Regions from separate parts of the Homo sapiens genome. Here region 2 is linked to region 1. Evidence: fine-mapped expression QTL. Tissue or cell type: whole blood. Region 1 holds a variant in brackets; the other region holds the start of a gene. All regions are shown on one strand. Distances are between the middles of the regions.

The links. PIP is the estimated chance that this variant, and not a neighbour inherited with it, causes the effect.
Region 2: it holds the start of LYRM1, and the variant in region 1 is fine-mapped to the expression of LYRM1 in whole blood (INTERVAL, PIP above 0.99).

The regions. Positions count from the first base shown.
Region 1 is chr16:20,973,098-20,975,597 of GRCh38, reverse strand. DNAH3 (dynein axonemal heavy chain 3) reads left to right here. Exons shown (of 62, transcript NM_001347886.2): 51 at 183-365. Among named protein-coding and RNA genes, the nearest start is that of LYRM1, 74 kb to the right of the region's middle. RefSeq lists an enhancer at 1,376-1,876. The variant C/AAAAC (reference allele first, on the strand shown) is at 1,019.
Region 2 is chr16:20,899,259-20,902,101 of GRCh38, reverse strand. LYRM1 (LYR motif containing 1) reads right to left here and starts at 1,331. Exons shown (of 4, transcript NM_001128302.3): 1 at 1,213-1,331. DCUN1D3 (defective in cullin neddylation 1 domain containing 3) reads left to right here and starts at 1,744. Exons shown (of 3, transcript NM_173475.4): 1 at 1,744-1,898. RefSeq lists enhancers at 354-1,139, 1,140-1,925, 2,135-2,184.

The sequences.
Region 1 (2,500 bases):
AATAACTGTGTTGAAAAACCTATGAGATAATCACTAGGAAACGAATCTGTACCCAGGACCATGTCAAAATCATTAGTACATATTTTCTGCTTATGTCATAGGTTGGAGAATCATTTCAATTCTTGTCTACTTTGCCATTTTCAGTGCTGACCCTGGATTTCTCCCACCTCTCTCCTTGCTAGGTAGCGGTTATGCAAAGAGAACTGACAGCTCTTCAACCTCAACTCATCCTCACCTCCGAGGAAACTGCCAAGATGATGGTGAAAATTGAAGCGGAGACGAGAGAAGCTGATGGAAAGAAACTTCTGGTGCAGGCAGATGAAAAAGAAGCCAATGTTGCTGCTGCCATTGCCCAAGGAATCAAGGTAGAAAGACTGAGAAGAAAGGGAGGGAACTGGTGCTGCCGAATGAGCGTGGTTATACCCATCTTACGGATGAGAAAAGTGAGGCTCAGAAAGGGTAGGCAAGGCTGGGCATGGTGGCTCACAGCTGTAATCCCAGCACTTTGGGAGACCAAGGGAGGTGGATCACCTGAGGTTAGGAGTTCAAGACCAGCCTGACCAACATAAAGAAACCTCATCTCTACTTTAAAAAAAAAAAAAAAAAAAAAAACTAGCCAGGTGTGGTGGCGTGCATCTGTAATCCGAGCTACTCAGGAAGCTGAGGCAGGGGAATTGCTTGAACCTGGGAGGCAGAGGTCGCAGTGAGCTGAGATTGCACCACTGCACTCCAGCCTGGGCGGCAAGAGTGAAACTCTAAAAAAATAATAATAATAATAAGGGGTAGGCGACTCTCCCAGCATCACATAGCTGATAAGTGATGAAGGAAGTTGTTCTGAAACATCGCTGAAACCAGGAAGCATTAAGACCCAACATATGGGCAGGTGTGGTGGCTCACACCTGTGATCCCAGATTTTTGGGAGACAAAGGCAGGAGGATCGCCAGAGCCTCGGAGTTTAAGACCAGCCTGGGAAACGTAGCAAGATTCTGTCTCTACAAAAAAAAAAAAAAAAAAAAAA[C/AAAAC]ACTATAAAACAGCCAGGTGTAGTGGCACACCCATGTAGTCCCAGCTACTCAGGAGGCTGATGTGGGAGGATTGCTTGAGCCCAGGAGTTTGAGGCTGTAGTGAACTAGGATCGTGCCACTGCAATCCATAGCTCACTGCAGCCTTGAACACTTGGACTCAAGTGATCCTCCCACCTCAGCCTCCCGAGTAGCTGACCAAGACCTTGTGTTGTCTAAAAAACAAAACAAAACAAAACAAAGTGGCCAGGGGCAGTGGCTCATGCCTGTAATCCCAGTACTTTGGGAGGCTGAGTGGGTGGATTGCTTGAGTCCTGGAGTTCAAGACCAGCCAAGTTCAAGACCAGCCTGGGCAACATGGCAAACCCCATCTCTACAAAAAATGTAAAAAAAAATTAGCCAGCTGTGGTGGCATGCACCTATGGTCCCGGCTACTCAGGAGACTGAGGTGGGAGGGTCCTGAGCCCAGGAGGTCGAGGCTACAGTGGGTCCAGGTCGCACCACTGCACTCCAGCCTGGGTGACAGAGCAAGACCCAGTCTCAAAAACAAACAAACAAAAAGACCCAATATGTTTTGACCTCATGTTTTACCACTTTTCCTTCATTCCCTGTACTCTGGCCATGTTGGTCTCCTAGCTATTTGTTAAATAATCATAAGCCGCACTCCCACCCCAGAGCCTAAGAACTGGCTGTTCCCTCTACACAGAATGCCCTTCCTTTTGATATCCACATGGCTGTTTCCTTCGTCTCCATTGTATTTTTGCTAAATTATGCCTGGCGTGTTGTAGGCGTGGAATAAATATTTGTTGGATGACAGAATGTGGAACCTAGAGGAAACCCGCTTGAAGGTGATTCTTGTGCCAGAGAGGAAATAGTCCTGGTAAGGGCTTGACCTACGTTCACGTAGTAGAAGAAAATCTACTTCTTCAATTAGCACTGATGTGATGTTGTATATTTCACAAAGCACTTTGAAGTACATGGTTACATTTGAGCATTACAACTACTTTGAGACTTCAGAATGACAGATAGGGCCGGGAAAGGTGGCTCATGCCTGTAATCCCAGCACTTCAGGAGGCCAAGGTGGGCAGATCACTTGAGGTCAGGTGTTTGAGAACAGCCTTGCCAACATGACAAAACCTTATCTCTACTAAAAATACAAAAATTAGCTGGGTGTGGTGGCACATGCTTGTAATCCCAGCTACTCAGGAGGCTGAGGTGGGAGAATTTCTTGAACCCGAGAGGTAGAGGTTACAGTGCGTTGAGATCGCACCAATGCACTCCAGCCTCAGTGACAGAGCAAGACCTTATCTCAAAAAGAAAAAAAAAAGAATGACAGACATGGGCATATGAGAGTTGACAGCATTGAGGTTCAGTGGTAAATTGACTTTCCAGAGCTGCATGGTTAGTGGGATTAGAAGCCAAGGTTCATGGCACTTACCTTAACATACTTGAACCTATGCCCCCACTTAACAGAAAATTCTCTC
Region 2 (2,843 bases), 74 kb after region 1:
TCTCACTCCGTTGCCCAGGCTGGAGTGAAGTGGCGCGATCTTGGCTCACTGCAACCTCCACCTCCCGGGTTCAAGCGATTCTCCTGAGTAGCAGAGATTACAGGCGCGTGCCACTACGCCCAGCTGATTTTTGTATTTTTAGTAGAGATGGGGTTTCACCATGTTGGCCAGGATGATCTCGATCTCCTGACCTCGTGATCCGCCCGCCTAGGCCTCCCAAAGTACTGGGTTTATAGGCGTGAGCCACCGCGCCCGGCCGGCCCTTTCAACACTATCTTCACCTCTCCTTTGTCTTACAGTGCAACAGTCTCCTAACAGGTCTAACTACTTCCACCCTTCTCTATCCAGCAGGCAGAGCGGATTTTTAAAAATGTAAATCAGGTCAGGTCACTTCCCTTCTTAAAACCCTTAAGGTACACATTAGCCAAACCCCTGCCTTGGGCTAAAAGGCGCTGCTACAGTCATGCCACTTCCCCAACTACATCACAGGGCACTCCGGCCCTGGCTCTGTTTGCTTCAGCCACATGGCCTTCTGGCTGTTTCCAACCTAAAAGTCCTTCTCATTGGCTCTTCTCTCCACCCAGAAAACCCATTGTCTCGGATCCCCGCAAAACCGTGGCCTCCTTTGAACGACCTTACCCGATTTCGAGGGGCCCTCCCCCCATCTTCTGTCACCTCATCCGGTCTTTGGGGGGCATTTCTCACTTGCTGATACCTTCTTTATTGATTTACTTAACTCTCTCCTGCACACGAATGGAAGGTAACGGAGCAACACCCTACTCTCAGGTTTGAAGAGCAAGAGAATTACGAAGCTGGCTCTCACGGTCCTAGGGAGTCTCCGTTCCTGTACGGGACCTGGTGTGGGTCAACGTTCCCCAGCCAGACACCTCTCGCCCCCGGACCGGCCCCTACCATCTCCCATTTACATTCGGGGGTCCAAAAGATTCACAGCCTCCGAGGGGGCCCCACGCCGGCACCTGAGCGTCCCCACACCAGGCCTCCCCTCTTGGACGCGCGAGCCACTTCCGTGAGGCAGGTCCCCGAGGCCGGTGGCGATGACACCGAGCCGCCCCCGCGAAGCTGGGGTCACACAGGCCCGTCTCCCGGCAACGCCGCAGCCCAACCTCCAAACCATCCCTGCCCGTGGGGAGCCAACCCCTTCCCCGCCAGTCTCCCGCGCCTGGAGTCGGCGCCTCCATCCCCTACACTCACTCTGCGTCAGTCCTGCCTTCCCCCACCCACAGAAGCGCGCAGCCCGCGGCGGGCTGGGAGGAGGCGGCGCCAGGAGCCCAGCAGAGCCGTGGCCGACCGAGCACAGGCTGGTCCAGTAGGCCAGGCCGGACCAAACCACCGGGCCCACCTCTGTGGGAGCACCAGTTCCAGGTCTGGGGGAGTCTCGACTGACTGACTCTACCCATCTCCCGCCGCATCCAACAATAAGCTGAGCTCCTCCTCCCCCTATTTTTCCTTTACGCTTTCATTATCCTCCCCGCTCCATTCCCGTAAAACAAGAAAAAAAAATGGTCCAGCCCAGCTCCCTCCGGGTTGCTAGGTCTTTGCCCTTACTTGGCGACGGCTTCGTACGTCTTTATGTGCGTCGTGACGCAATCTTCCACTCGTTCCCTCCTTGCCCCTCTCCCATTCTCCCTCCTGGAGCTGGCGGCCGGCGGGGTTACCGGAAGTGATGATGCAGGAGGCGATGGAGGGGGCGGGGCTTCGGGGCGGCCGCCGCCGGTGGGCCGCAGATGAAGAGGAGGCGGTGGCAGTGGTGGAAGAAGAGGCGGCGGCGGCGGGGGTAGGGAGCCTGGAAACGCGAGCGGGGATGGTAGGTGGTTTGGACCCGCCGGGCCGCCGTCGTTTCCAGAAAGGGTTTGACTGGAGGAACCTCTGGAGCAGCTGTGAGTTTTGGGGAGGGGGGGAGTTGAGGAAAAGGCGGGGGGGCATTGAGAGATGAAGGGGCGGGGGTTGGGTACCTTCGAGAAAGGGGGGTGGAAAGGGAGGAGTGGAAGTCAGCGCGTTGTCTGGAGTGGTACCTCTGAAAGAAGAGGCTGTGAGGGGAGCCTGTGGCGTGTCAGCCGCAGGGCTCAGAAAACTTACCTACTGTCCCTGCCTCCCCACCGCCAGCACCCCTCAACCCAGGGCCTGGGGATATGGGGTTGGAGCTGCCCTGGAGGGGGTGCAGACTCTGGTCCTCTGTCCTGGGTGAGCGCTGTGAGGTAGGAGCCCTAGGGGGAGGTGGTGGGTGAATCTCCCAGCTCCCTCCGCCCTCATTTCCCTCCCCACCCCCATCGTTCTCTTTAATCATTAACAGCCCTGGAATTAAGGGGCTCAGACCTGAAGGCCTTTTTGTGCACCTTTGCTATAAACGATAACCATCTGTGTCCGAGGTAATGAGGCTGGAGGCTTTGCCTGTATCCTCTATAGGAAGTGGGACGGGGTGACAAATGTATTGTTTGTTCCTCCACCACACCCCCCGCACTTCTCACCCCTCATCCTCCCCCATGCACACCCCTGGTTTCCACTTTAATTCTCTGTGGCTGAGTGGCAATAGTGGATTTTTTTTTCTTCCCCTTTCCTCCTTTATGGCACTTAGTGCCTTGGTTACCTCTTTTGAATTTGGTGTTCAGCCTCTATCCCAGATCTTAACTGTAAGCTTTGTAATACTTCATACAGGCTGTCACGTTGGGAGTACCTCTTACGCTCCGATTATAATGAGCATTTTCTTTTATGAATACTGGAATTCCAGAGCCTTTGCAAGGAATCCTGAATGGCATCATAGCCCAGGAATCAAGGTCTCTTGCTCGAAATACTTTATGTGTGAGGAATTTACATGTTGTCAGCTC